Regions from separate parts of the Homo sapiens genome. Here all the other regions are reported to be linked to region 3. The links are microRNA targets in miRTarBase. Many come from high-throughput screens and were not tested one by one. Region 3 holds a microRNA gene; each other region holds the end of a gene's coding sequence. Distances are from middle to middle.

Region 1 (4,294 bases), not on the chromosome of region 3:
GAACGGGGTGGGGAGCAACGATTCTTAGGCTTAAGTTGGATCAAGATAGCATTGGGTCATGTTATAAAATCATCTGTTAGCTCAACAGCCATACTTTTAATTAATTCATTTATTTTTTGAGATGGAGTCTCGCTCTGTCGCCCAGGCTGGAGTGCAGTGGCGCATTTTCAGCTCACTGCAACCTCCACCTCCCAGGTTCAATTCTCCTGCCTCAGCCTCCCAAGTCACTGGGACTACCAGCGCCCACCAGCACGCCCAGCTAATTTTTTTGTTATTTTTAGTAGAGATGGGGTTTCACCATGTTGGCTGGGCTGGTCTCAAACTCCTGACCTTAGGTGATCCACTACCCGCCTCAGCTTCCCAAAGTGCTGGGATTACAGGTGTGAACCACCATGCCCGGCAACAGTTGCACTTTTTTTTTTTTTGAGACGGAGTCTTGCTCTATTTCCCAGGGTGGAGTGCAATAGCACAATCTTGGCTCAGGGCAACCTCCGCCTCCTGGGTTCAAGAGATTCTCCTGCCTCAGCCTCCTGAGTAGTTGAGACTACAGGCACGGGCCACCACGCTTAATTTTGTATTTTTAGTGGAGACAGGGTTTCATCATGTTGGTCAGGCTGAGCCACTGCGCCCGGCCCAGTTGTAGTTTTTAAATGGTACATTTCATTTGGATAAGTAGCTTTGTATTTTAAAAACCACTTAATGGCCAGGTGCAGTGGCTCACGCCTGTAATCCCAGCACCTTGGGAGGCCGAGGTGGGTGGATCACGAGGTCAGGAGATTGAGACCATCCTGGCCAACATGGTGAAACCCTGTCTCTACTAAAAATACAAAAATTTACTAGACATGGTGGCATGCATCTGTAGTCCAGCTACTCGGGAGGCTGAGGCAGGAGAATAGCTTGAACCCAGGAGGCGGAGGTTGCGGTGAGCCGAGATTGCACCACTGCACTCCAGCCTGGCGACAGGGCAAGACTCCGTCTCAAAAAAAAAAAAAAAAAAAAGCCAGACACCGTGGCTCACGCTTGTAGTCCCAGCACTTTGGGAGACTGAGGCGGGCGGATCACGAGGTGAGGAGATCGAGACCATCCTGGCCAACATGGTGAAACCCCCATCTCTACTAAAAACACAAAAAAATTAGCTGGGCATGGTGGCACGTGACTGTAATCCCAGCTACTCAGGAGGCTGAGGCAGGAGAATCGCTTGAATCTGGGAAGCAGAGGTTGCGGTGAGCCAAGTTCTCATCACTACATGTACTCCAGCCTGGCGACAGAGCAAGACTCCATCTAAAAAAAAAAAAAAAAAAAAACCACTTAATATGAAATAACTTCCATTAACTGATCATGAAATTTTGCCCTCTTTCAGATTAAGATGAAGGACACTTCAGTCACATGTTTACTGTGGCAATATAACTAGTCTGGATAATTTTATTAAATCATAGAATATACAGTCAGGAAACACTACAGCTATATTTAGCTGTTAGTTATCTCAATAAGCTACTTAATTTACTGGCAGACCAAAACAGGCATACTAAGCATTTTTATCAATTAAAAAAAGTCTTCAGTTGTTCAAGTTTCACATATACTCATAAAATTTTTAACTCGGGGGCACAGTTAACATAATTTATTGAGTGTTCTCCCTATAAAATATAAATTAACTTTTCCAAAAACATTCCTCAAAGATACTATAAACAAAAGAAATAAGGGTATATTTTATAACAGAAGAGTGTAATAGATGACCATTATGGTAAAACTAAGGTGCCATAAAAAATTTGGCCCAGCTATGAATTTCAGACCCTATGAATTTTTATGTTGAATACATTTGGCTATATTGCTAAGTGGGAAAAGGAGGAAAGTAATACCAAAATTATTGTGACCACCAATTTATAAAATCATTATTTTAAAGCTAATCGTAAAACTTCAAATGTTTAGAAAACAGTAATTTGTGGGTACTAATCGCATCTTACTATGTAACTGTAAAAGGCTATTTTCTCTTTGGTGCCCAGGCCAGCATTTTGAATACATTGCCAAAACATTTGCACTCCCTAGCTCTGACAATTCAAATACATAGGATTTTATCTATTTTACATTCCTGTTTGATAGAAATTTGAGGCAAATTTTACCCACACAGCCTGAAAAATACCTTGAAAGCAAACCTCGGTCTTCTGCATCTTCCAATTGATTCCTTTACAAACTCTGCACACATACAACTTAAGCCTCTGCTCAGGCTTATTATACCATGCACACTGCCCACAAGGAAAAAAATTAATTGAAAATAAAAGCCACAACTCTGTGTACTATTTAAACTGAATATCCAATTATAAATTGGTACATTGAAGTGTCTAAATAAGATGTTTTTAGCAATCTTGTTAAAAAAATTCTTGGGCAAAATATATCTTAATTTTTAAAAACACCCCAAGATTTTTAAAAAACACTTGTACTATACAACTTATAGTAACCTTGAAATTGGTTTACAAGGTTTTAATCAAGGTATTTACATACCAAGTAATGTAAAGCAAAAAAAAAAAAAAAAAAAAACAAAAACAAAAAACTAATTCCCAATGACATTTTAGAACATACTAATGCATCAAAGATTGTATGAAATTAAAATTAAGGCTTTTTCTGCACAATTTGTGTAATTTTAATTTTACATAGTAGCCAACCTTGGAAATGTCAGTCTTAACATTCTGATCAATCCACTGCATTCAATGCAGCGGAGTGTGTTAAGTGTTACTTCAAATAATTACATTGCTGCTACTTCTATGTTGAAGCATGCTTTTTAAACACTGTAGTTATTGAATATTTACAATATGTATCATTTAAACTTCATGTAAAAGCACAAGTATGACTGTCTGACTTCAATACAAACACCATACTTGGATTTCCCCCCAAAATGAAATGTAAAATACTACAATTTTAATAATCGACACTTTTGGAAGTTTTAAAAATATGTCTTAACGTGGACCACCAACATTTGCTCAAGTAACTCAAACAATGCTGTTCCTTTTTTAGGGTGCAAAACTTCAGTCTGGCTTCAGTTTCTTTAGGCATAGAGAAAGAAAATATTTCCTCCAAAGCGACTCCAAAATCACGCATTTCTTCTGAATATCACACTTTTTCTCTGCTGACTTCAAATGTGGTCCACCTCAGGGAAGGGGAGGGGAGTATCAGGATTCAGGATGAACTTATATGTGATTCCCAGGTTTTCACGATCCTCCCTTTTTTGCTCTTTTAAAAACACAGTGAGTTAAAATACTGAACAGCAAGATAAAAATGGAATAGTATCTAAGAATCAAAATGTATTAGCCATTTTTCCTATTATATCAAAATTTGTAGTCAGAATTGTCTTTATTGACTTTATTTTAGTTTTTGTACATAAAGAAAAATCATGTTCATATCCATCATGAACAAAAACTTAAAAAGGCAGAACTAGAAGACACGTGTCCTTCACCAAAGCAAATCTGTGCTAAAGGTTCCAAACATTTCAATTTTTAAAATAAATATTTTCATTTTCCGATGTCTACTTTCATGTCTTCAGAGTGTCACAGGAAATCGAAGCCTATCATGAATTACAATTTTTTTTTAGAGTCCCGGCTCACTGTGTTTGGTAACTTGCCATACCATATCCGGCTTGGTTAGGAGGAGGTATTACAGGGGGAGGAGCTTGTCCTTGGGGAGGCTGAGCACCAAATCCACCCATCCAAGCAGCAGAAGGTGATTGACTTGGAAGAAAAAGAAAAAATCTTCAGCAAACACAAGAAAAAAAAAATCACATATGTATTTACACAAAAATCAAGCAGAGCCTAATCACAGAATAGAAAACCAGAAATCAACACACCTACAACAAATAGAAAGATCAAAGAAATAAATGATATATGTGTAGAATACATATTCCAGTATTAGTCTTTGATATTTTTAAGATAACCACAACTTAACACACTGATGTCTGAGGAGTATCTGCAAACTAATTTTTTAAAAATTGTGAATGATTCAACACATCATCTATTACATAAGAAATTTTAAAAACAAGTTCATGTTGGAAACAGTCTCAAAGGAAGAAATCTGAAAATAAAGCTATGGGCTGGCCCTGGGCAGGGGAATTACAAAGGAGGAAACCACTCTATCAACAAAAGAAAAAAAAAAAAAAAAAAGGCCAGTTACTTTGTATCACACAAACCTCAGATTTCTCACACATACCACATAGGCATAAAACCATCAAACTTTTGAATATATCTGGACAAAGATCTTTTACATGCAAAAATAAATAAAAGTGTATCAGAAATGTAAATCAAATTCTACC
Region 2 (4,000 bases), 36 Mb from region 3:
ACCCCTCTCTCCGCAGGGGACCCAATCCTGCAGCTGCTGGAGGGCCGGAAGGGTGACCGAGAAGCCCAGGTCTTTGTGAGGCTGCGGCGGCACCGGGCCAAGCAGGCCTCCCAGCATGCCTTGCGGCCGGCACCGTAGCCGTAGAGGTTTGCGGTGGGGCTGGGTCCCCGGTGGGGACTTGCAAGGGCTTTCCTGTAGGGTCTGGGGCTTCCCCGCCACATCGCGGCCCTCCAGCCTGGCCTAACACTTGGGGAGCCCCAGCATGCGGAGTGCCCAGAGTGCAGACCTCCCCTGCCTCCCATGGTGATGGGGGCTCAGCAGCGACATCTCTACTCCCGCCTCCCTGCCTCCAGCCCTGGCTGCAATGTCTCTACCACATCCCAGCACCAGGGGGAGCAAACCCTGCCCCTGCCCGCCTCTCAGAAAAGCTGCTGTGGTGGGCAGGGGATTGGGCCATCTGTCTCCTGGCCCTGGCCCATCTGCCTCCTGGCCTTCCTGTTCCAGCCACTGGGGTGGGGGCCAGGTTCACTGGGACCAGGGCTACAGGCACAGAGTCTCCTGGAAAAGGGAGAGGGGACCCTGCCAAAGATGAGGCTCCAGCTGCCCTGGGGGGAGGGTGGTGGCCATTACTAGAGGGGGCCTGGGTCCTCTCCCCAGGGGCTGCCAGCATCCAGGCCAGGAAGCCTGGAGCCAAGAACCTTCTGGCTCTGAGGGAGCAAGAGCTGGCAGGCGGCAGGGCTGGCACAGACAGACGGAAGCAGAAAGGACAGTTTGGCTGCTGTGTCTGCTGCGCACGCCCCCTCCCCGGACAGCACCTGCCACCTAGAAACTTTCTTAGCAAAAAAATTAATAAAAACAAATCCATTGTCCTCTTAAAATATGCCTTTGGCCTACAGTGGGGCCTGGAATGCGAGCCAGGCCGGGTAGCTTCCTCCCCAGCCCTCAGGGGACTTTGAGCTACCGCCACCTTGGGGTAGCTACAAAGCAGGGGGGTAGGTGTGGAAATAACTGAGGCAGAGGCAGGGCTAGGGTGATTTTTGGCCGTGGGCTTTGAATAAATTGCTTTACCAGGCATACCAGTTCCTGTGGTGACACCCAGGACAGGGACCCGTTCCTCGGGGGAGCACAGTGAGCAGGGGCCTCCCAGGGGTGCAGGTTGAGGCTGAGGGGCTGCTCTTGAGACAGTAGGGCGTAGAGGAGCTGGGTCCCTCCCCTGCCTGGGGGGTGTCAGAACCTGAGGCCTGGTCATCACGTCATCCTAGCTGTGTGACCCTGGTTCCATGTCGGAACCTCTGAGTCTGCACAAAATGAGGACAGGAGTCGAGGTTAGCTGAGATGACATCCAAGGCCCGAGACCATGCAAAGAGGATCCCACCAGGGTGTTTTCTCACCCCCCACCGCACAGCCTAGTTGAGGAGGTGGGAGGGAGGACGTACCTCTTAGGCCTCAGCCCCTCATCCCTCAGGGGCAGGGTAGGGTGAAGAAGGCAGAAGGCAGGACTTCCTCTGGGTCCTACCAGCAAATCATCCCAATGGGAAGGCACTGGGTTTTTTGTTTTTGTGATGGAGTCTCACTCTGTCGCCCAGCTGGAGTGCAATGGGGCAATCTCAGCTCACTGCAACCTCTGCGTCCCGGGTTCAAAGGATCCTCCTGCCTCAGCCTCCTGAGTAGCTGGAACTACAGGCATGTGCCACCACACCTGGCTAATTTTTGTATTTTTTTTTTTTTTAGTAGAGACGGGGTTTCACCATTTTGGCCAGGCTGGTCTCGAACTCCTGACCTCAAGTGATCTGCCCGCCTCGGCCTGTTTTTGTTTTTGAGATGGGATCTCACTCTGTCACCCAAGCTGGAGGCAGCTGTGCAATCATGGCTCACTGCCGCCTCGACCTCCTGGGCTCAAGTGATCCTCCCACCTCAGCCTCCCTAGTAGCTGGGACCACAGGCATGCGCCACCATGCCCAGTTGGGAAGACACTGTTCCTCTGAGAAACAGTTACGGGCCCTATTGCCAGTCACCGCTGACCACACAGCCCTAAAGAGTCCTAGGGCCTGGGGGGCCTCTGTGTCCAAGGCTAAGGGTCCCTGTGTCATCAACCGCTAGGCCTAGGTCGGAGAGCACTTGAACTGTCTTGGGGCCTGATGGGCCCAGGAAGTTTCCAGCCCTCTCCAGCTGCCTTACCACAGCTCAGGGGTGTGGGCAGCAGCCGTTTCCATGGCTGAGGCAAGGCTCCTGGCCCACCTCATAGTTCAGAGGCCCTCTTTTGGGACCCACTCCCCCTCACCCCCATGTAAACAAGCTACCACTGCAAGTTCATATTTTATTTCCAATAGGTTTGGAGCTTTGTTGATTTTTGCATTTTTGTAAAAAAGGAAAAAGTTTTCACTTAATTCATTGAAAGCCCTTTCGTGCTGAGCCCAAGGGGGAGCCTGGGCCAGGACCAGACCCTCTCAGCCCTCTTGTTCCTACCGCAGACACCCGGTGCTGGGGGTGCGGCTGCTCCCCTCCGCCCACTCTGCCCTCCCGCCCCTGCTGCATCTCTCTCTGTACAGAACAATTTTTAAAATGGAAGCTAAGACACAATATACACTGGACAGGCACACACACACGCACACAGGCGTCCGCCCAGAACAGGGCGGGACACCAGCTGCACTCAGAGAGCACCAAGGAATGCAAACGGAGCCCCTCCGGGTAGGAGGGCAGGGCCTGGGCCCCCTTGGTCCTCAGTCCTCAGTCCGCACTCCTCCCCGCCAATTGCCCTGCTAGCTGCCAGAGAGGGGAGGGGGCAGGGAGAGCTGGGGGCAGCTGGTTGGGGGCGGTGGTCATAGAATGAGTACCAGCCTGGTAGGCGGCCCTGGGGCCAGGGAGGCTCTTGTGGGGAGTCCGGGGAGGGGCGGCGGGGGGAAGGACTGAGGGTGGACCCTCAGGAACCTGAGGGCTGGAACTCCTGGGCCTTGCCCCTCAAGGAGCTTCAAGGGCCCAGGTGTCAGGAGTGGGGCTGGCCCTGCAGCACTGGCCTCCAGCCCTTGCTGTTCTCCCCAAGACTAAATTAACATTTGGTAAACTTAGGAGCTAAGCCAGCTGAGACCCCCAGCACTCCCCCTCGGGCCTCCCTGAGGCCCTCACAGCTGGGGGCCAGGCCTGCTCTGGGGGACCCACGTCTTCCACACTCCACCCTTGCCCTGGCAAGGAGGTAGGGGGAGCAGGGCCTGCCCTGAGGGCTTCTCCCTTCCCCTTAGTGCCTTCCAGTCCCACCCTTCCCTGCTCAGGCCCCAGGAAGAAGTTAAAAATAGTTAGTTCCTACATTAAAAAAGAGACAGAACCAGATTCTCTGCCAAAAGGCCAGTGGGAGAAGAGGGGATGTCATCTCTGCAGTGGGAAGGGCAGGGAGTGGGTAGGGGAGGACTGCAAAATAGTTTCTTCTTTTAAAAAGTGCTTGGTAAGTCTTTTAAAGTGTGTGTCTATATCTATGTACAGATATACACACAGACACTGTCCACACCACCACGCATACCTGCACACATACGGAAATGTATACATATACATACATACGGAAATGTATACATATACATAATCATATACATATACATACATACATACACATATATATATATATTCATATATATATATATACTTTAAAAAGTCCTAGGTGAGAAGATCTGGGCCAGGCTGGGCCAGGCCTGCAGGGTCACGACTGGAGGGTGTGGGCCCGGCCAGGCTGGCAGATGGGGCACTCGCTGCCCTCAGCGCAGAGCTCACACAGCGCAGCGTGTTGGCACGGCAGCACTGCCCGCTTCTGTTCCTGACACTTAAGGCATTTCACCGACTGCATGTGGAACACGGCCTGCAGGGAAAGGGGCATCGTGGTCACCATCCATGGGTCTGGCCCCAAGTTGAGCGAGGAGTTCCCTTGATCCTCACTGCAGCCCCTTGGGATGGGAAAACTGAGGTACCGAGCTCAACAGTGTGCTCCCAGACCCCTGTTGGCAGGTGAGAGAGCAGG
Region 3 (4,294 bases):
ATTGCTGTTCCTTCCTCATGGGGGGCAGTACTAGGTTTCAGGGACAGTCTCTGAATGGGTCGCTTTTGTTCTTAGACACTCCCTTAGGGCCGCTTCCCCTCTCAGGCCAGCTTCCCTAAGGCTTTCAGTACCCAGGATCTGGAAGGAAAGGGCCAAGCTGGGCTGTGGCATCCACTGGACCCTAGAGTCTCATTGGGCAGGGCCTCAGAATCCACAAAGACTCCCCAGTGCTGTTCCTCTTCCAACGAGGCTGGACCCCTTCCAGCCATCTGGGAACTCAAGCAGGAAGGAAGGTTCCTTAGGACAGGTTCCTGGCATGGCAGGTTCCCCTGGAAGTGGTCGGAGGGCCCTCCCACCTCTTGATGCCAGCAGAAGTCAGGCCTTCCCTGCTCCCTGAGGACACATCAGGGCTTCTGCGGACTTGGCCTTCTGGTTCACACTGGCACGTCCAGACCCAGGTACTCTGGGTTCTCTGCCGTAGGTGTCCCTTTGAAGGTGCTGGGTGGAGCCCCCCGCTCTGGTGGGTCCTGGTCCCAGTAATAGAGGTTGTCGAAGGCTGGGCTGAAGGCAGGAGGAGGGTGGGGCTGAGGGGCAGCTCCTCCCTGGGGTGTCAAGTACTCGGGGTTCTCCACGGCACCCCCAAAGGCAAAAACGTCTTTGACGACCCCATTCTTCCCTGGGGAGAGAGTCTTGGGCCTTTCCAGAGTGGCACCAGCAGGTCGGGCAGCAGGCAGAGGGCCCTCTCGGGGCGAAGGGGGCTGGGGCCGAACATCTGGCTGGTTCACATATTCTGAAAGGTCAAGAGAAGGTGACCCATTAGGGGAAGGAACCCCGGTGTCTCTGCCACTCCCTCTGCCCCCACAGTGGACCCTGGGCTGAAGGTCCCACCTCCCCTGCCCATCAGTCTCTCTGCTTAGACTGGACTCCATACCAGGCTGGGGGCTGCAGGTCAGGGGGGCAACGTAGCCATCAGTCTCAGAGGGCAGGGGTACTGTGGGGTCCTCACTGTACCGCTGTAGAGGGCTGGGGTCATGTGTGGGGAGGCTTTGCAGCCCCTTGGCTGCCCCCATTCCCAGGTCACCATCAAATACATCGGAGCCAGCCCCTTCGGAGGGTGCCAGTGGAGACCTGGGGGCCTCCTCTTCAGAGGGCTCCAGCCCTAGTGTCAGGTCCCCACCGCCACTCTGGGGACAAGAAAGAAAGTCATGATGGGGGTCACTCACGGATCTGGGATGGGGACTCCATGGAAGGTGACAGGGTCACAGGAGAAAAACAGAGGTCACCTTTGGGGTATGACACAGTCACCGTGGAGAGAATGGGGTCACAGGGGTTGGAAGGCAGTAAGAATTTTTTGTAGGGATAATGGGGTTTCCTTGAGAGGTGACAGTTGAGGGAACATCAGAGAAAGGGACCCTAGTCCACCGGGGTTGGGGGAGGTAAGCAGACAGCCACACAGTGTGACCGAGGGCACTGACCCTGGTAGATGAGCTGCGGTGCCTGTGGTGGACCATGCCCCCAGCGCCCGGGGCAGGGTCTGGACAGAAGAAGCCCTGCTGGGGTACCAGATACTCCTCAGCATCCACCAGGTCCCCCATGTCATCGTCCTCCAGCAGTGAGCGGTAGAAGGTGCTGTCCAAGGGACTGGCTGGGCCCAAGTCCTCATTCTGTGGAGGAAGGAGAGGCAGGATGGTGGCCCCTCCCCAGCCCAGCATGCAGCCTTCCGTGAGGGGCCTGGCATACTGGACTCATCTCTCCTTCCCACCCTCTGCAGGAGGGTGCTCTTAGCCACAGGCAGGGATGGGGCACAGAGGCCCAGTACCTGGATGACCACAAAGCGCTGGGGGTCCCTGGCCATGCGGGAGAATTCAGACACCAACTCCCGGAATCTTGGCCGACATTCAGAGTCAATCATCCAACCTGGGGCAGGAGGGAGGTCAGCATGCTAGTCCCAGGCCCTGTGTGCTTGCTGCCTCTCCCCTCCCACTCCCCCTCCAGTCTGGTCTAGACAGTCCCAAGGGACAGCCCAAAGCCCTCAGGTGGTAGAGAAGTAGCACCAGACTCTGGGGTCTTCAGCCAGAACCTTTGGCATCTCTTCTAGTTTCCCTTTTAATTTTTTTTTTCTTTTTGTTTGCTTTTTTATTTTTTTGAGATGAGGTTTCGCTCTGTCACCCAGGCTGGATTTCAGTGGTGCAATCATAGCTTACTGCAACCTTAAACTAGGCTCAAGTGATCTTCCTGCCTCAGCCTCTCCTGAGTAGCTGGGACTACTGGCACACACCACCACACCCAGATAATTTTTTTATTTTTTGTAGAGATAGGATCTCACTATGTTGCCCAGGCTGGTCTTGAACTCCTGGCTTCAAGGGATCCTCCCACCTCAGCCTCCAAAAGTACTGGGATTACAGGCATGAGCCACTGTGCCCAGCTTAATTTTGTACAAGAGTGTTCCTCAAGAGTGGCTTTGGACTTTGACTGTAAAAGGGATACAAGAAGGTTTTGAGGCTCCTAACATACTAGGGCTCCTGGGTCTACATACATCCTGGTCCCCTTTCATGCCCCTTGTGGGCTCCTCCACCCAGGACCTCCCACCCTCCTCCAGGCAGCCAGCACAGCTCAGCCACGCACATTTGACCATGATCATGTAGACATCAATGGTGCAGATGGGGGGCTGGGGCAGCCGCTCCCCCTTTTCCAGCAGGTCAGGGATCTCCCGGGCTGGGATCCCATCGTAAGGTTTGGCCCCAAAAGTCATCAGCTCCCACACAGTCACACCTAAGGCAGAGACAGGGTCAGGAGTGGGAGGGCCAGAGGGAGCTTTAGTGTACTGAGCCAGAGGTTCTGCTCAGGAGTCTAGCATCATGGCAGGTAGCAGGGGGAGATGTGATGCCAGGAGACAGACCCTACCCGGTCTTTCCCTAATCCTGGGAAGTGCACAGACCCTGCAAGGTGGGGCACAGGCAGCCCCTTCCCTCCCTTCACATGCTGAGGTGGCCCCGTAATTCTCCCCATCCCAGCTCTCATCCTCCCTCCAGCCATGGCTCCTCACCCACCCCTCCCAACACCCCCCATCACACACCATAACTCCACACATCACTCTGGTGGGTGAACCGCCGGCGGAGAATGGACTCCAGCGCCATCCACTTGATGGGCACCTGGGAGGGCAGAAGAGGAAGTCCTCCAACTGTGTGTTGTGGGGAGGTGGCCACTCAGAGTTCTCCCATGGGCTAGACACCACTCCACCCAGCCTCCTCTGCTCCTTGGTCCTTCACCTAACCTTGCCCCCATCTGCATGGTACTCTGTCTCGTCAATGTCCAGCAGCCGAGCCAGCCCGAAGTCTGTAATTTTGACATGGTTGGGACTCTTGACCAGCACGTTCCGAGCGGCCAAGTCCCTGTGTACGAGCCGCACATCCTCCAGGTAGCTCATCCCCTGGAATGGGAAGCACCCATGTAGACCTTCTGGGAGGGCCTGGGCCTGGCCACATGCCCAGCAAGAGTCCCCATCCTAGCCCCTTGTGGACATAGGGGTTTGCTCCGGAGAGACCTGCAAAGAGCCCAGGTGCATACCTTGGCAATCTGCATACACCAGTTCAGCAGGTCCTGGGAGCCCAGGCGTCCGCGGTTTTCCCGGACATGGTCTAAGAGGCAGCCATAGGGCATAAGCTGTGTCACCAGCTGCACCGTGGATGTCAGGCAGATGCCCAGAAGGCGGGAGACATATGGGGAGCCCACACCAGCCATCACGTATGCTTCCTGGGGACAAGGGTACGCTGAGAGGGTATGGGAGACCACACACCCCCAAACACCACACAGCCTCCCAACCATCACAAACCACAGCCATGGCCCACAGCCTGTGAAGGCTCAAAGTACCAGCCTGGACAACATGGTGAAACCCTGTCTCTACTAAAAATACAAAGATTAGGCCGGGCACGGTGGCTCACACCTGTAATCCCAGCACTTTGGGAGGCCGAGGCGGGCGGATCATGAGGTCAGGAGTTTGACACCAACCTGGCCAACATGGTGAAATCCCATCTCTACTAAAAATACAAAAATTAGCCGGGCGTGGTGGCTCGCGCCTGTAATCCCAGCTACTCAGGAGACTGAGGGAGAAGAATCGCTTTAACCTGGGAGGCTGAGCTGAGACCGCACCATTTCACTCTAGCCTGGGTGACAGAGCGAGACTCTGTCTCAAAAAAAAAAAAAAAATTAGCGGGCGCTTGTAATCCCAGCTACTCAGGAGCCTGAGGCATGAAAATCGCTTGAGTCCAGGAGGTGGAGGTTGCAGTGAGCCGAG
Region 4 (4,294 bases), not on the chromosome of region 3:
TAAACTTTCCATTTCTGCTGTAAAGTTTCAAATTATAAGAGTAGAACTGCCTAGGATTTAAAGTACTGTGTGAGGAAGTCAGCCGGAACACAGCATCAGGAGTGTGACTCAAGCAACAACCTCCTCTCCTTTTCAGGGTATGGTGGCTGTGTCTGGCAGTTTGTCAGTGCTTCTGGATTCCATTATCTGTGCCCTTGGCCCCTTGGCATGTCTCACCACACAACTACCTGAATTGAATGGCTGTCCCAAACAGGTCTTGGTGAGTTTTCCCTGGATTTTTAGAGTCAGATCCATTGGGCGTCAGAGATGCCCTGCCTTAATGAGCACTGTCAGACACACATAAGGCTTTGTGACACACAGTGCTTCCTTCATCTGTTGGCCCATGGAACATGATGCTATATTATCAAATGCATGCTGTACTTTCACTGAAACTAGAAAACAAGCCATTTACCAAAACAGTACTTAAGAAAGCAGCATTCTAGCCCTTGAGGTACTACAATTCCTGTGTTTCCTGTTTGCTATTCTGCACCCAAAGACAGTACAGGAATTGTTTCCCTCTTTTTTACGAGGATTAATGGGAGAAGTCAGCAGAAAAGTTCCTAGCATAACAAACAGCAGGATGCCGTCTTCATTCTCACCTGTTTTTCTAACTCCATTTGATTTTTCTTATCTCTCTCCTTGAACAAAGAAACATCTCTCAGGAAACCAAGGTACAGTACTCTTCAGTTGAACATTTTTCTTTGTTTTGCAGTCAAACACATTAGACAACATTGCTTACATCATGCCGGGACTGTGACAGCAAAGAATCCTGGGACAGAAACCTTATCCTACACCATTGCTGGTTTGTGTATATATGACTGTTGCAGATTCCTTCAGTGGCCTCTGGCTGTAGGTTTTAAATTTTTATATCTATACATACATATATACATATATATATAATGTACAATATATACATAGACTGTAACTACTTTGCTTTTAATAATTTTATGAAATGGCAAAGGTTTAGCCAAGAGGAAATTTTGGCATGAATACAGGCTTGGGATTCTTTTTTCTCCTGTGGTGGATAAATCTGCCTTAAAAATCAATGTAACTTGGGGGCTGGGGGCTTGTTCTGGGTGCCAAGCGCATCTCTTTATGGACAGCTAAAATGTGATTATTTTCCAAGCTCAGTTGGACCTCCAGACCCATCACTGACCATTTGCCTTACCTGTCTTAGTCTGAAATGTAATAGGAAAGATAACGGGAAGATGCCAGTTGACTGAAAATTCAAAGCCTTTCAATTTGAAGTGACCTAGGTGGGAGGTGATAAAATTTGTTCCCTTTATAGTTATGGAAGTGGCTTAGGTGAATTGAGTAGAGGGTTCATTCCAATTCCTACTGTATAGGTGTCTGTGTCTCAAAATTTATTGTAATCATTGGTACCATTGGTGGCCTCAACAGAGGCCAAGGAGTTCTGTGAGCCCTGGCAGCAAAAAACACCTTGGGGGGTGAAGCTGTCAATGCCACCAGTTGGACCTCCATACATTCTGAGCTAACCCAGAATCTTTAGTCGGCAGAATTAAGTGCTGGTGTCTTTCACTGGCAGCATGAAGTTAGCCACCAAGTCCTCACAAGCCGTGCTGCTTAGTTGCTCGGTGGTTATGGATAAACTTTGCCCAGCATGATTTTTGGGTTCATCTTATCAGTTCCCCTGGTGGGCAGATACACAGTGTTCTGCATTCCACATGTAAGTGAATTGCAAAAACAAAACAAAACTCACTCTCTTGTAGGTTTATTTATGTGTGTGTGAATGTGTATTTTAATTATGTGTATTTAACTCTTTAAAATCTCTTAGATTTTAATTTATCCTGTAAATTTCTGTATATATAATTTAATAACAGAAGCCTCCACCAGCAACAGCATGTGGAAGATACAGATTTGTCATTTCTCCCTTCCGCCCTCCCTTCTTTCCTTCCTTCCTTCCCTGTTTCCTTCCCTCTTTCCTTCCTTCCTCCTGGTCTGTTCCAAAAACTCTGAATCATCTACATTTTAAGGTATTTTACCTCAAAAATGAATCATTGTGTTAGGATTCTAATTCTTTATAAAGAACTTCATGGGCTTCAATAATGTCTAGAAAGTAAAATAAAGAGGAATGTTACCATCCCCAGCTGCCCTTATTTCCAGAGAACCAGACGTTTGTTTCCCAGTTGGAAAGAAGACAGTTGAGCACTTCAGGATGGTTTTTAAATTTGGTATGAGATTCTCTGCCAACACCAAGCTCTGAGTTAACTGTGCTTTCTTCTCCTGGCCCTGACAGAGCACTACAGCATCAAAGTAAATCTTTGGGGACAGTGTAGCCCATCTGCATCCTATTTAATTTCTTCCCTTCTCCCCACCAGTGTTGTCACAGGGCTATGTTGCTTAAAGGTAGTCTGGCTGCTGAATCCCTTTCTCAGCTCAGAGCAGTTTTAAGATTTAATTGGGAATACAGAGAAACAGGATTGTTTGAGAACCAAAATCAAGAGGAACAGAAATCTTAACTTGATTTCATGTGTTAGAACATTGTACCATGCCTCTTCTGTATCTGTGGAAGTTTCCTGTTTGACACAGGGTATCTAGGAGGGGCGGGGAAGACATGGATAGTATAGGAAGACATTAATCCTAGCATTGTCATTTATATACATTAATGAAATCCTGATGAGGACCTGCTTTTTGTTTGTTTTCCTTTGAAACCCAGCCCTATTGTATTTGTATTTAAAATTTGTACACATTTGTATAATAATCTGTACCTTGTGGTATTTGGTACTATTAGAGGAAAAACTTTGGATTCAGACCTTCTTGCAGTTTTTATATCATTGTTTTATTTTGTTTTTTAAATAAATTCTAGTGGTTTGATCCAAATCCCATTACAGTTGTATAAAGAAATAAAATTTTGTACTTATATTATTAAAAATCACATTTTTAATATTTGTAGTCCAGTCTCAGCTGTCTTTTCCCTAATCATGATCATCATAGTTGCTATGAAATTATAAAACCTGTTTTTCACTCTATTCTACCATAATTTTCTTAAGAAAAAAATCAACCCACAATGGAGATTAAATTTCTAATCTTAGCCATTTTCTTAATATACTCCTTACTCTGCTTCTATTAACTTTTACATTGTAGAGGTTCTCATTTTCTCTTTTGCAAATTGCAAATTTAGTGAATCTGATAATTCCACCTCCATTTATTGGCAAATGAAACTATGTGCATTATGGTGTTGGCCTAAATCAAGAAAATGTTGATTAATCTTATATAAGGGTTGCATCTGAATCATGTGCTAAATGATATGTTTCAGTACTGTCCTGTTAGCATTACAGTAATGCTGTTGATAAGTTACTTAATCTTTATAGGCTTCCAAAGTCCCATCTATAGAATAGTGTTAAAGTCACTTCCCTGTCTGTAGACCTGCAGCCAGCCAGCCTGACATGAATGTTTAATAACATTATGAACACTGAATATATGGAGATATGACCTTTCAAGGTAAAAACTTCAGTGCAAACACAAGGTGTTAAAAGTCATAAATAGTAAAATAATATGATTAATTACAAGGCTAATGTCTTATGGAAAGGCAGCAAGGAAGAGACTACCGTATCACTGAGTGACTATTAGAGTGATTTGCATACTTTGTCTCACTCATCCTCCGCCCAAAGCCTTAAGAATATTATCTCCCTTTATAGATGCGAAAAAGTACTTTTCCTAAGTTTATACTGCTAGTAAATGGCAAAGGCAGATTAAGAACAGTGAAACAGCTGACCCCAAACCCTAGGCTCTTTTCTACCCCAAGCTACTTTCAGATTTAAATCATGTCTATAATTCATCAGAATGCTTTCCATTATCTCAAGTCCTGAGCGAATGTGATTGTGGGAATGCTGTCTCAGATCTTTGCATTGTTCGGGTATCTAGCTGGCTTTCACTCTTGTCATACTATTGTCTTTAAATTTTGAAGGCAAGGTATCTTGATTTTTGTCTGTAAGCACTTAAAGGATTTAATAGATTACATTTATGCAGACTGTCAATCTTAAGAAATTTGAACATTTTAACCCTCAGTAAGGCATGATATTAATTTTACTAAAACACTTAAAAAGTAAATTGAAACACTTTTTACTAAATCAGTTTGCTCCTTATTAGCACACTTTTTAAAGACAGTTTTAATCAGTTTTGTACTAACTTTAATGTTTGCCATTTACATCCCTATCTACTATGTTGATAAAATCCATATACTGGCCAGGTGCAGTGGCTCGTGTCTGTAATCCCAGCACTTTGGGAGACTAAG
Region 5 (4,294 bases), 360 kb from region 3:
CCCTATCCCCTGTTCCTTGCTCTGTCACACACTTCTCACTCGTTCCCCAGGCCCATCCCTTGCCTCCCCATCCCTGCTCTGTGCCTTTTCCTGTCTTTGTCTCCTTCCTTCTCGCTGCCCTGTCCCTCTGTCACTCACATTCCCCTTTGTTCCCCACTCCCCACTTTGTTCTCAGCCACCTTCCATCCCCTCATCCCTCCTCTGTCTCCCAGTCCCATCTCTTACCCCTCAGTCCCCTCCCTAACCCCATCTGCACCCCGCCTCTCTGACCACCAACCTCAGTCCTCCCCACTCCAAGGCTCCTCTCTCTCCCCCAGCCCCCGGCCTGTCCCTCTGTCCTCCTTGCATTGCCCCCTCCCCCCAGTACCCCCCTGCCCCTCTCCACTTCCCAGCTGCCTCCCTCTCCCTGTGCTTCTCCTGTCCACGTCTCTCAGGGGGAGCTTCTCCCCTCCCCTCCCCCAGCCTCTCTGCCTCTATCTCCCCTCTAGTCCTTTCTTCCCACGTCCCCACACCTCACCCTCCCCATCTCCAGGCCTTCGGCCAGCCCCTCGCCCCTCACGCCCCTCTTCCCTCACAGACCGCTCGGGCCTGCTGTGTGTGGACAAGATCGAGAAGAGTCAGGAGGCGTACCTGCTGGCGTTCGAGCACTACGTCAACCACCGCAAACACAACATTCCGCACTTCTGGCCCAAGCTGCTGATGAAGGTGACTGACCTCCGCATGATCGGGGCCTGCCACGCCAGCCGCTTCCTCCACATGAAAGTCGAGTGCCCCACCGAACTCTTCCCCCCACTCTTCCTCGAGGTCTTTGAGGATCAGGAAGTCTAAAGCCTCAGGCGGCCAGAGGGTGTGCGGAGCTGGTGGGGAGGAGCCTGGAGAGAAGGGGCAGAGCTGGGGGCTGAGGGAGACCCCCCCACACCCCTTCTCTCCTTCCTCTCGTCCTTGGATAGATTCAGCTCCCACACACACACCCGCACTGCCCAGGTCCCTCCTCAGACCTCCAGCCCTGGGACAGGGCAAACAACTGAACTTGCTATGGAAAGGACAGTGTGGGAGGCTGGGGGAGCTGTGTCCTGCAGTTCCCAGGACCCCATCCTCTCAGAAGGTAGGGGAAGGGCGGGAGGATTGAGAAGGGACAAGCCACCTTGACCGTAGGGGAAGGAGGAATGTGGGCTGGGGGAAGATGCCCTCAACTCACCCCCTACACACACATGAGAGAGAGCCCCCACCCAGTTCCTTGGCCTAGGTCTCCCCTCCAGGCTGAGGGCCTCTCTACTTCCCCAGATGCCTGGGTGCAAAGAACGGCTTGGCTTGGCTCCTCCTCTGGAGGTTAAAATTTATAGTCATTCTAACTGCACTTTGGAAACCAAGCAAGGGGAGAAGACAAATGAAGAAAAACTAGACAGAGAGAAAAATACAAAAAAGAGAGAGCGAGCGATAGAGAGAGATGATATTAAGTTATTAACTGAGGCTGACCAGAGGGGAGGACCCCCCCTTTACCACCCCATGCACTTTGCGAGCTGCCCCTTCTTCCCCCACATCAGAGAGAAATGCCCCCACACCAGAGCCCCAAGGGTAGGGCTGCCGATCAGAGCTGTGAGTTAACACAACAGGGTCCTGGCCACCCCCCTTGCCATACCCCGCCCTCTGTGCCCCTTTGGCACCCCCCAACCCTAGTATGTCCTCTGCTTTCTGCCACTCGTGCCCGCTGAGTTCCATCTACCTCTCATGCTGGATGCCAGCTGGCCCCTCACCAGCCTGCCCTGCTGCCCACACAGCTCCCCTTTAAGTGCCCAGCCCTAGGGGCCTCTCCCCATCCACCTCCTCCTTCCACACCTTGGCACCCACCCAGGAAAAAACTGTGGCTCCAACTCCTACCCTCCTTATATCCTGCAGTATTAGCTAGAAACCGGATGCTGCTGCATTGGTTGGGTCGGGGGTAGGAGGGCTGTGCGTGAGCGTCTCCCAGAACCCTCCACCCCTTTAGCACTCTGTTTCCCTGTTTCCCATCTGTCTTCTGGGCTCTCTCTAACCTCTGCCCTCCTCCCCAGCTCCTACTCACTGCACTAACTCTGGGCGGGCAGGTACCAGAATGGGGGTGTTTAGATAAGTGACACTTAGTTGGGGCCCCAGGGGAGGGGTGGTCGGTGCTCCTTTTTCTTTAAAGCTCTTTTGGCCAGCTGCCCCTCTGCCCCGGGACCCCTTCCCCTCTTCTTTTCTCTAATTCAGGGACTTTGGCTTGAGCCCCTCTCGCCCTCCTGGTGAGGGTGCTCTGTTGGTCTGCACTTGGGTGAGCTGTCCTCCTCCCCCTCCCTGTGGCTGCCGCCCACTCCTCAGGGGAGAGAGGGAGAGAGGAGGTGGTCCTCCCATGGGAGCAGGAGGTGGGGTGGGACAGAGCAGACCAGAGGGTGCTGGGCTCAGGGCTGCATGTCGGCAGGGATGGATGGGTGGACACAGATGCCCCCGGAAGCCATGGGGATTGGGGCAGGGGGTGGGGGGAGGGGTGCCAGGGCTTCCTGCGCTTTGCACTATTGGGGCAAAAATGTCTTAAGCAGTGGGGAACCTGCCACCCCACCCTGACCCTCAGCCTGCCACAGCCCCCTACACACACACACACACACACACACACACACACACACACACGGACATGCACACACGGACATGGGAAGGCAATGCTATGCTGCCCGTCAGGGCACTGTCCTTCCCCAATCGTTCAGGTGTTCCAACAGGGGTGGAGGGCCTGGAGGAGCACCCGCTGTCACCTGTGCATGTGCCTGTCCCACCCTGCTGGGGCCTCGGGCTGCCCGCGCTGTCTTTGTCTCTATCCTCTCTCTCTCTCCTGGAGTACTGAATCCTGTATTACTCCAGTCCCATGGGTAGGCCCTCTTGTACCTTCCTACCACGCCTGGGGGCCCAGTGGAATTCCTGACCTGTCTGCTGTCTTCCCCATCCCTCCATCCCCACCCCAACCCCTCCATCCCCATTCTCAGCCATGGACACGGCAGAGAAAAGGCCTTGAAGAGCCTTAGCCTCTTATAGGCACTTGGGACTCCCCCACCCTCCCCAATCATATGAGCTGTGATCCCATCCTCCCCGGACCCCTCCCTTCCCCCTCGGTGATGTGGGGTGTATGTGTGCGTTCCTCTGCGTGAATGTGTGAGTGAGTACACATGGTAGGGGAGGAGCCAGGGCGACTCAGGAGTGCCACGCACCTGCTCTAGAGCGGCAGCTGTCCCAGTCCCTGCTGTGGAAGTGGGGGACAGGGCCCTCTCCTGGGGGCCATTGGTGCTAATGAGGGGGATGGCCTTGATGTGGGTGCTCAGCATGCCTCCCCCAGTATTGGCCCGGGGCACTAGGGCAGGCAGGGTGGAGCAGCAGGTGCAGTATCGGTGGGAGGACGGGTTGCTGGGAATAGGACGAGGGGGCCAGGCCAGGACAAGGGGTTGCCAGAGCCATGACCACTACCCCGCCCCCACCACCCGCCTCTCCATCTCAGTATTGCCCCTCCCATCACTCATAACACACATACCTCATCCAGCCTCCTCCCTGCTCAGACTTGGGGAGGGTGGGGGAGGAGCCCCTACCCCTTCTCCTGGTGGCGGGTCTGCAGGGCTGGGAGAGGGCAGGGCGTTGTGAGAGAGAGACCGTCCATAAGGAGGACAGTAACTCCTGCCCTGGGAACTCCTGGGCGGGGGGGAGGGGGACACTGCCCAGAGGCGCTACTGAATGTATGAGAAGCTGGTGCTGGGCTGGGGGGAGGGGGGTTGTGGCCAGAAACAGGGAAGGAGGTAGGTCTCTTCCCCAGGGAGGGGTGGGACCGGCAGGGGTGACTTGAGGGGCTCCTACTCCTGCCCCACGTTGACAATCAGTATGTCTGTTATGTGCGATTTTTCACCCCGTTGTGTTTTGGGTCAGGATTTTAAAGAAAGATATTTTTATGGTAATTGTTGCTCGTCTATTTTACTATATATTTATGTAATAAATATATGATGAAAATAACCCCCTTGGGCACCCCCCTTAGACTTGTGTGCTGTTTCCCTATATCCTCCCATCTGCTGGCAGAGTACCCACCCCACAAACTGACCAGATGGAGAGGTGGCCCCCCCCAGCCTTGGCAGTATTTCCACCCCACCCCCCAAACGAGCACACACCACAGAAGCCAGCTCAGCTGTGAACTATTGGATTTGAGACAGGAACAGAACAAATCAGAGGGCCAGGGGAGGGTTGTGGGGGAGACAGAGTGGTTTAAATAGGGGAGGAGGGGAAGTTCGGTGATGGGGGAGGGAGGCAGGTA
Region 6 (4,294 bases), not on the chromosome of region 3:
ACAGCATAGTGTTGACTTGAGGTTTTCAAAGCAGGGCCCACCCTTGGAGCTCTGTACAGTGACACATCTCCCCATCGACAGCTCTGCAGTGGGCCTGGGGTTTTCCTGCCCATTACTCTCCTCCCAGCATGTCAGCTTGTTCAGAACAGTGATTTCTGTCTTTTGGGGTCACTGCTGATTCCCCGGCCTCTAGAATAGAGGTTGGCACACAGCAGGTACCTGTGGATATTGGTTGAACAAACAGGTGGGCAAAGTGAGGAAGATAAGAAGTCCATCCGTTCAGTTTCCCCACTGCGGAGGGAATAACACTGTCTTTCCACAGGTCACAGACTGGGATGAGCAACGGGCTGAAGGCACGTTTCCCGGGAAGATCTGAACTGGCTGCATCTCCCTTTCCTCTGTCCTCCATCCTTCTCCCAGGATGGTGAAGGGGGACCTGGTACCCAGTGATCCCCACCCCAGGATCCTAAATCATGACTTACCTGCTAATAAAAACTCATTGGAAAAGTGAGACTATGCGTGTGAACGGGCCAGGCAGTGGCAAGAAGCTGGGCTGGAATCAGTGCCCTGACCAGGGAGGGGCTTGAATGAGTATTTTCTCTGTTTTGTTTTTATTTATTTAATTTAATTTAATTTTTTTTTTTTTTATGATGGAGTCTCGTTCTTCACGCAGGCTGGAGTGCAATGGCACGATCTCTGCTCACTGCAACCTCCACCTCCAGTGTTCAAGCGATTCTCCTGCCTCAGCCTCCCGACTAGCTGGGACTACAGGCACACCCCACCACACCTGGCTAATTTTTGTATTTTTAGTAGAGATGGGGTTTTACCATGTCGGCCAGGCTGGTCTCAAACTCCTGACCTCAGATGATCCACCTGCCTCGGCCTCCCAAAGTGCTGGGATTACAGGCATGAGCCACCATGCCTAGCGTTTTTTAACTTAATTTTATTGAACCTTGGCCACCCTCTCTGTGCCAGTCAATGAGTCAAATAGTTGATTATACAGAATAACCTAAGTTCCTATGTGTGCAACCACCCTACATAATTTTAAAGCAAATTATATAGATTATAATATAATATAAAATACATAAAGATTATATTTTATCCAGAAATAAGAAACTATATGTATCTCTTGGAGATACAATTTTTTTTTTTTTTTTTTTGAGACAGAGTCTCAATCTGTTGCCCAGGCTGGAGTGCAGTGGTGTCATCTCAGCTCTCTGCAACCTCTGCCTTCTGGGTTCAAACTATTCTCCTGCCTGGAGATACCTATTTTTTTAACATAATTATTTACACCTAAGAAATTAGTTCTTAATGGCCGGGCACAGTGGCTCATGCCTGTAATCCCAGCACTCTGGGAGGCTGAGGTGGGCAGATCACCTGAGGTCAGGAGTTCAAGATCAGCCTGGGCAACATGGCGAAACCTCGTCCCTACTAAAAGTACAGAATTAGCCAGGCATGGTAGCACATGCCTGTAATCCCAGCTACTCGGGAGTCTGAGGCAGGAGAATCGCGTGAACCTGGGAGGCAGAGGATGTGGTGAGCCGAGATCATGCCATTGCACTCCAGCCTGGGCAACAAGAGTAAATCTCCATCTCACCAAAAAAAAAAAAAAAAAAAAAAAAGAGTTCTTAATATCTAATAAGCAATCTCCTGCACAATGTGTAACTTCTCCCCGTGTTGGGACCTGCTCTTTCATGCTGATCATGATGGTAGTTGGAAGTCATTTAAGTAGGCCAAGTTGAGAGCTGTTCTTCATGGTGCCCCCAAAAGAATTGCCACACAATAACAGCCCAGAATATCCCCAACAGACTCGTCAACAGGGACCTAGCTAGCATGACCAGCCGGAACACTCTTATGGCTGAATTGGTGTGTCCTCAAAACCTTTCAAATGGCCGGGGTGTGGTGGCTCACACCTGTAACCCTAGCACTTTGGGAGGCCCAGGCGAGTGGGTCACGAGGTCAGGGATTCAAGACCAGCCTGGCCAAGCTGGTAAAACCCCATCTCTTCTAAAAATACAAAAAAAACTATAAAAATACAAAAATTAGCCAGGTGTGGTGGTGCGTGCCCCTAATCCCAGCTACTGGGGAGGCTGAGGCAGGAGAATCACTTGAACCTGGGAGGTGGAGGTTGCAGTGAGCTGAGATCACACCACTGTACTCCAGCCTGGGCGACAGAGCGAGACTCCATCCCCAAAAAACAAAAACAAAACTTCAAATGGTTACAAACTTGTCTGATGCATTCACATGAGCAGGGATGATTCTTGTATGGAGAAAAATGGCCCCAGAGATAGATCTTGTGAAATAGCTGCTCATGAAGAAAAGTGGCTGTAGGGGCCGGGCGCGGTGGCTCACGCCTGTAATGCCAGCACTTTGGGAGACCGAGGCAGGCAGATAACCTGAGGTCGGGAGTTCCAGACCAGCCTGACCAACATGGAGAAACCCCGTCTCTACTAAAAATACAAAATGAGCCAGGCGTGGTGGTGCATGCCTGTAATCCCAGCTACTCTGGATGCTGAGGCAGGAGAATTGCTTGAACCCAGGAGGTGGAGGTTGCTGTGACCCGAGATTGTGCCATTGTACTCCAGCCTAGGCAACAAGAGCGAAACTCCGTCTCAAAAAAAAAAAAAGTGGCTGTAAACAGGACCTTAGTGCACACACAGGGAGCTTGAGGGATCGTGGGAGGTTATGGCGTGGGTTGGAAGTAGCAAAGAACTTAAACACCATGAAAAAAAAATTTTTTTTTTGAAATGGAGTCTTGCTCTGTTGTCCAGACTGGAGTGCAGTGATGTGATCTCTGCTCACTGCAACCTCCACCTCCCGGTTCAAGCAATTCTGCCTCAGCCTTCCAAAACGCTGGGATTACAGGCGCTTGCCACCACACCCAGCTAATTTTTTGTATTTTTAGTAGCGATTTAGAGAGTAGTTTCACCGTGTTGACCAGGCTGGTCTTGAACTCCGTGACCTCAGGTTAACCATCCACCTCGGCCTCCCAAAGTGCTGGGATTACAGGCATGAGCCACCACACCCAGCCAACACCATGAAAATTTCAAATGAAACAGGACGGCCAGTGAAAAGTCAAGGTGCTGGACTCCTTGAGTCCAGCTGCCTGATTCTGCCCAGGGTTTGCCACCAGTGCCAGTGTTTCCTGTACATTCCTTTAGAGATAGCTCATGCATCTAGAAGTATTTGTAAATATATTGATCTGATTGGATATGGTGCCCTTTTGCTCACACAGCCCCTGCCACACTGGCCTCTTCAGTGCACAGGAACTGTGAGCAAATGTATTTCGACACACCAGGCTGGCTCCAACCCCGGATCCTTTACACTTGCTGTTTGCTCGACCTGGAATGTTTGGCCACCAGCTGTCCACAAGCTCACCCCTCACTGCCTTCAGGTCTTCATTTAGCGAGGCCTTCTCTGACCACTCAGCCTTCACCTTCAGCTCCTCCATCTTTGTGCCCCTTCACTCCTTTTGTTTCTTTCTCTTTTTTCAATTTTTATTTATTTTTTTAGTTTTTGGAGATGGAGTCTCTCTGTCACCAGGCTGGAGTGCAGTGGCGCAATCTCAGCTCACTGCAACCTCAGACTCCCTGGTTCAAGCGATTCTTCTGCCTCAGCCTCCCAAGTAGCTGGGATTACAGGCACGCGCCACCACGCCCAGCTAATTTTTGTATTTTTAGTAGAGACGGGGTTTCACCATGTTGGCCAGGATGGTCTCCATCTCCTGACTTTGTGATCCACCCAGCTCGGCTTCCCAAAGTGCTGGGATTACAGGTGTGAGCCACCACACCTGGCCTTGTTTCTTAAGCACTTACCGCTAACATGCCAAATGTTATCCTTCATCATTGCACCACTGGAATGTAATTTCCATGCGGGCAGATTTGGAAATATATATTTAATTCCCCTTTTCAGCTTTTTTTTTTTTTTTGAGATAAGGTCTTACTCTGTCACCTAGGCTGGCATGTAGTGGCGTAATCTCAGTTTACTGCAGCCTCCGCCGCCCAGACTCAAGCCATCCTCCTACCTCAGCCTCCCAAGTAGCTAGGACCACAGGCATAGACCACCATACTCAGCTAGTTTTTTGTTTGTTTGTTTGTTTTTGATAGAGACGGGGTTTCACCATGTTGCCCAGGCTGGTCTCAACTCCTGAGCTCAGGTGATCTGCCCGCCTTAGCCTCCCAAAGTGCTGGGATTACAGGCCTGAGCCACCGCACGCCAGCCTGCATTTTTTCCAAATGTTCTAATCTTTCTCATTTTATTATTTTTTTTTTTTTAATTTTTTTTTTGACACAAG
Region 7 (4,000 bases), not on the chromosome of region 3:
TGTGGCAAAGCTTTTAACCAGTCCTCAATCCTTACTACACATAAGAGAATTCATACTGGAGAGAAATCCTACAAATGTGAAGAATGTGGCAAAGCTTTCTATCGATCCTCAAAACTTACTGAACATAAGAAAATTCATACTGGAGAGAAACCCTACACATGTGAAGAATGTGGCAAAGCCTTTAACCATTCCTCACATCTTGCTACACATAAGGTAATTCATACTGGAGAGAAACCCTACCAATGTGAAGAATGTGGTAAAGCCTTTAACCAGTCCTCACACCTTACTAGACATAAGAGAATTCATACTGGAGAGAAACCCTACCAATGTGAAAAATGTGGCAAAGCTTTTAACCAGTCCTCAAACCTTACTGGACATAAGAAAATTCATACTGGTGAGAAACTCTACAAACCTAAAAGATGTAACAGTGATTTTGAAAACACTTCAAAGTTTTCTAAACATAAAAGAAATTATGCTGGTGAGAAATCTTAGAAATGTGAAGAATGTAACAAAACCTTTAAAAGTTGTCACACTTGATTGTGCATAAGATAATTCATACTAAAAAAAAACCTACAAGTGTGAAGAATGTGGCAAAACTTTTAACCAATGCTCACACCTTATTGCACAGGAAAGCATTTGTACTAGAAAAAAATTTCAAATATACAGAATGTGAAAAAGCCATTAATATCTGTTCACATCTTACTCAACATCAGAGATTTCATACTTAATAAAAGCATTATACATGCAATTACTGTCAAAAATCTTTCAGAAAATATAAGCCTCTAAAGTGAAGAGTATTCATTTTGAAGACACACATTATGAACATAAGGAGGGTTGTGGTACCTTTACTTGTATCACAGATCTCATTGTACACATTTTGTGCTAGAGGAAAACCATGGAGCAGTTGCTTAAACTTTGTGCAACATAAGGAAATTTATATTGGAGAAAAACCCTGCAAATGTAATAAATTTGGGAAAACATTTTTTCAAAAACGACAGCTTAGAAAACACTAGAGGGTTCATACTAAAATCTATTTTTGCAGATGCAGTAAATATGAAAAAATATTTAATCCAAAATTCTATGTAAATATCAGATAATTCACAGTAGAAATAGTTAAGGCACTGACACTTCAGGCATTACACTAAATCAGATTGCTGAGTATAGAAAAGAATCTAAAACTAAAGTTGGTAAATGAATTATTTGTATATAACATTATAAGAAGTAGAAAATTTTTGCAGAGTTGTAACTACATTCAAACTATCCTTTGAAAAAAATTAGGTTTTATGAAAAGTGAATAATGTCATTTAACTCAAGTTATGCTCTTCATTCCTATTGTATTCACATGTGAAAGCATGTGACTTAATTGTTGCTGCATCAAAGATGAGAGATTCTTTGTTATTAGGTGTGCATTATTTACGACCTTTTTTAGTGAAAGAGTTAAGGACATTAAAATGTAAGATGCAAGATGAAAATGTAAGTGGAGAGGCTCTTTCTGGTTAATTTATAATATTGACTGATGCATGAGGTAGGAGTTCAGATAAATATCCTGTGTTATATTGAGAAAAAAAATTTTCTGGTATATCATTTTACTAATTGTACTTTTTTTTTTTTTGAGACAGAGTTTTGCTCTTGTTGCCCAGGCTGGAGTGCAATGGTGTGATCTTGGCTCACCAAAACCTCCACCTCCCAGGTTCAAGGGATTCTCCTGCCTCAGCCTCCCGAGTAGCTGGGATTACAGGCATGTGCCACCATGCCCGGCTAATTTTGTATTTTTAATAGAGATGGGGTTTCTCTATGTTGGTCAGGCTGGTCTCAAACTCCCGACCTCGGGTGATCCACCCACCTCGGCCTCCCAAAGTGCTGGGATTACAGGCGCGAGTCACCATGCCTGGCCAATTGTACTTTTATGTAATAAAATGTAGTACATTTTAAAATTTTTAGATAATGTGTGAACTTATTAATCAGGCTTTTTAAAAAACATGTTAAGACCATCGTGCATTCAATGAAGCATTATTATGCCATTAAATTTAACTTATCCCATCTTACTCAAGGGTATAGGTAAATGATGGTAACTATACACTATTTAATAAGATAATGGACTAACATTTCTAGTAATCTGTTTTGCCAGTGGCTTTAAATTGCAAATAAGTCAGAGAATATTATTCCTGTAGGTTGAATTATTACTCATTTTTTCTTATTTAAACTTATTTTTCTTAATTTTTGTGGGTACATAGTATGTGTAAATATGGCATATATGGCATATTTTGATACAGGTATATAATATGTAATAATTACATATGGGTAAATGAAATATTCATTACCTGCAGCATTTATTGTTTGTATTTGTTTGTATTATAAACTAATTCTGCACTTTTCGGTTTTTTTTTGAGACGAGTCTCACTATGTCACCCAGGCTGTGCACGCCTGGGTGCATTGGCGTGGTCTCAGCTCACTGCAACCTCCGCCTACTGGGTTCAAGTGATTCTTCCGCCTCAGCCTCCTGAGTAGTTGGGACTACAGGCGCATGCCACCACACTCAGCTAATTTTTGTATTTTTAGTAGAAACAGTTTCACTACGTTGGCCAGGTTTGTCTTGAACTCCTGACCCCATGATTAGCCCCCTCGGCCTCCCAAAGTGCTGGGATTACAGGTGGGAGCCACCACACCCAGCCACTTTTAGTTGTTTTCAAATGTACATTAAATTGTTGTTGGCTACAGGGTCTCTTTTATGGTCATAAGAAAACAATATAAACAAAATGCATACATTTCTGAGACCTGAATTAACATTAAAAAATTGTTATATATTTTTCTTCAAACATGTTGCCTCTCTGCCTGCAAGCACATACAGACTATTAGTTTTGATTTACACAGAGTTAAATATATACATATATTACTTTAAAGATAAAGCTTGGGTTTAAAAAAATTATGGAGTAAATAAATGCCTTCTTTGCGAGTATGAGTTTCTACCTAGTTTCAGAAGAGCAATATTGAAACAAATCAAATTATTTTAATTAGATGATGACTGCAAAACTAAAAAAACTTAAAAATGCTGAAAACAAATCCATACTCTCTGCTTTGTATTGAATTGATTACTGTAAAATTGTATGGCTTATAATTCAGAATCTCCCTATGCAAATTTTTGTTTTTACTTGCCTGATTCTTAGGCTAGACCCATAATTTTCTTGTGTCTTACATTTTTTTCTCTTATTTTATATAAGATGCTATGTGAGCTGGTCAGAGATTATAAAAATAATTTTTATAAAATTAGTGCAAAAAATTTAGATTTAATTTCAAAATTAGTGTATTGTTATATTTTATGTTGTTAGAATATTTTATTTTGTTCTTTTAATTGGAGAACGCTGTATAAGCCTACTTTTTTTAGTTTTTGTTCCTTTCAGTTTTTATAATGAAAATAAGTAAATATTGATTGAGCCCATTTATTTAGGTGAGTACTAGGGGGGCTTCCTAAATCATGAGGATGTTTTTATATATAAATATAGCAAACAAACATGACAGTGCTTTCTGTGTCACAGATGCTTTATAATAAGCCATAAATATTCCTGTTGGAGTTAGTTTGTAACTTCAAGACAGAGATGGAACATATCAATTGTGAGAAATAACATTGATTTTTTATGTGGAGAGGACATTTATTTTCAGGCTGCAAAGCTCAGTTTTGCTGAATTAAAAAATTGTGCTTCTTTTATTTCCTAATTGTCTTAGTTTTGTTTGTCTTATTATGTGTATTTCAGCTGTGTATGCATCACAGCCCTCCTTTTTGCTGTGCTGTGGCTACAGTTTTCTCACTGTTCTCTTCACACCATGTCATTTCACATGGTATATTGTAGGTTTTGATGAGAAATCGGTATTTTTAATGCACTGCAAGATTGGTTTTAACTGGAGATTTTGCATATCAATATAATTTTCTGATCAGTTAAATTAAAACAAAAAGCATACAGTGTCCACAGATGAAAGGATTAAATCATTTAGCGTTGTTTTTCTC

The links. The annotated mature microRNA hsa-miR-4728-5p reads UGGGAGGGGAGAGGCAGCAAGCA and lies in region 3 at 1,961-1,983, opposite strand. An mRNA with a match to its seed (bases 2 to 7 or 8) in the 3' UTR can be bound and repressed. Matches are read on the target gene's strand: a 7mer-m8 pairs with bases 2 to 8, a 7mer-A1 pairs with bases 2 to 7 and ends in A, and an 8mer does both.
Region 1: the mRNA of TIAL1 is a reported target of hsa-miR-4728-5p. Seed matches in the 3' UTR shown: 7mer-m8 at 3,150-3,156.
Region 2: the mRNA of UNK is a reported target of hsa-miR-4728-5p. Seed matches in the 3' UTR shown: 7mer-m8 at 2,884-2,890 and 7mer-m8 at 2,775-2,781.
Region 4: the mRNA of HMGXB4 is a reported target of hsa-miR-4728-5p. Seed matches in the 3' UTR shown: 7mer-m8 at 1,937-1,943.
Region 5: miRTarBase lists THRA as a target of hsa-miR-4728-5p. Seed matches in the 3' UTR shown: 7mer-m8 at 2,308-2,314, 7mer-A1 at 2,363-2,369, 7mer-m8 at 3,058-3,064, 7mer-m8 at 3,100-3,106, 8mer at 3,503-3,510 and 7mer-A1 at 4,045-4,051.
Region 6: miRTarBase lists COX6B1 as a target of hsa-miR-4728-5p. The part of its 3' UTR that is shown has no 7-base or 8-base seed match.
Region 7: miRTarBase lists ZNF681 as a target of hsa-miR-4728-5p. Seed matches in the 3' UTR shown: 7mer-A1 at 1,683-1,689, 7mer-A1 at 1,849-1,855 and 7mer-A1 at 2,627-2,633.

The regions. Positions count from the first base shown.
Region 1 is chr10:119,572,076-119,576,369 of GRCh38, forward strand. TIAL1 (TIA1 cytotoxic granule associated RNA binding protein like 1) reads right to left here. Exons shown (of 12, transcript NM_003252.4): 12 at 1,390-3,716. The coding sequence ends at 3,590. Among named protein-coding and RNA genes, the nearest start is that of TIAL1, 23 kb to the right of the region's middle.
Region 2 is chr17:75,824,103-75,828,102 of GRCh38, reverse strand. It overlaps UNK (unk zinc finger), which reads right to left. Exons shown (of 16, transcript NM_001080419.3): 16 at 2,304-3,841. The coding sequence ends at 3,686. It overlaps UNC13D (unc-13 homolog D), which reads left to right. Exons shown (of 32, transcript NM_199242.3): 32 at 17-878. The coding sequence ends at 138. Among named protein-coding and RNA genes, the nearest start is that of UNC13D, 18 kb to the left of the region's middle.
Region 3 is chr17:39,724,185-39,728,478 of GRCh38, reverse strand. MIR4728 (microRNA 4728) reads right to left here and starts at 1,984; the gene lies at 1,918-1,984. It overlaps ERBB2 (erb-b2 receptor tyrosine kinase 2), which reads right to left. Exons shown (of 27, transcript NM_004448.4): 20 at 3,568-3,753; 21 at 3,275-3,430; 22 at 3,077-3,152; 23 at 2,626-2,772; 24 at 1,820-1,917; 25 at 1,476-1,664; 26 at 932-1,184; 27 at 1-790. The coding sequence ends at 435. RefSeq lists an enhancer at 1,204-2,176.
Region 4 is chr22:35,292,856-35,297,149 of GRCh38, forward strand. It overlaps HMGXB4 (HMG-box containing 4), which reads left to right. Exons shown (of 11, transcript NM_001003681.3): 10 at 137-259; 11 at 752-2,952. The coding sequence ends at 796. Among named protein-coding and RNA genes, the nearest start is that of TOM1, 4.9 kb to the right of the region's middle.
Region 5 is chr17:40,088,629-40,092,922 of GRCh38, forward strand. It overlaps THRA (thyroid hormone receptor alpha), which reads left to right. Exons shown (of 9, transcript NM_199334.5): 9 at 578-4,294. The coding sequence ends at 828. NR1D1 (nuclear receptor subfamily 1 group D member 1) reads right to left here. Exons shown (of 8, transcript NM_021724.5): 8 at 4,165-4,294. Among named protein-coding and RNA genes, the nearest start is that of NR1D1, 9.8 kb to the right of the region's middle. RefSeq lists enhancers at 1,962-2,587, 2,588-3,214.
Region 6 is chr19:35,658,272-35,662,565 of GRCh38, forward strand. It overlaps COX6B1 (cytochrome c oxidase subunit 6B1), which reads left to right. Exons shown (of 4, transcript NM_001863.5): 4 at 323-511. The coding sequence ends at 376. Among named protein-coding and RNA genes, the nearest start is that of UPK1A, 6.1 kb to the right of the region's middle.
Region 7 is chr19:23,740,104-23,744,103 of GRCh38, reverse strand. ZNF681 (zinc finger protein 681) reads left to right here. Exons shown (of 4, transcript NM_138286.3): 4 at 1-4,000. The coding sequence ends at 492. Among named protein-coding and RNA genes, the nearest start is that of ZNF681, 17 kb to the left of the region's middle.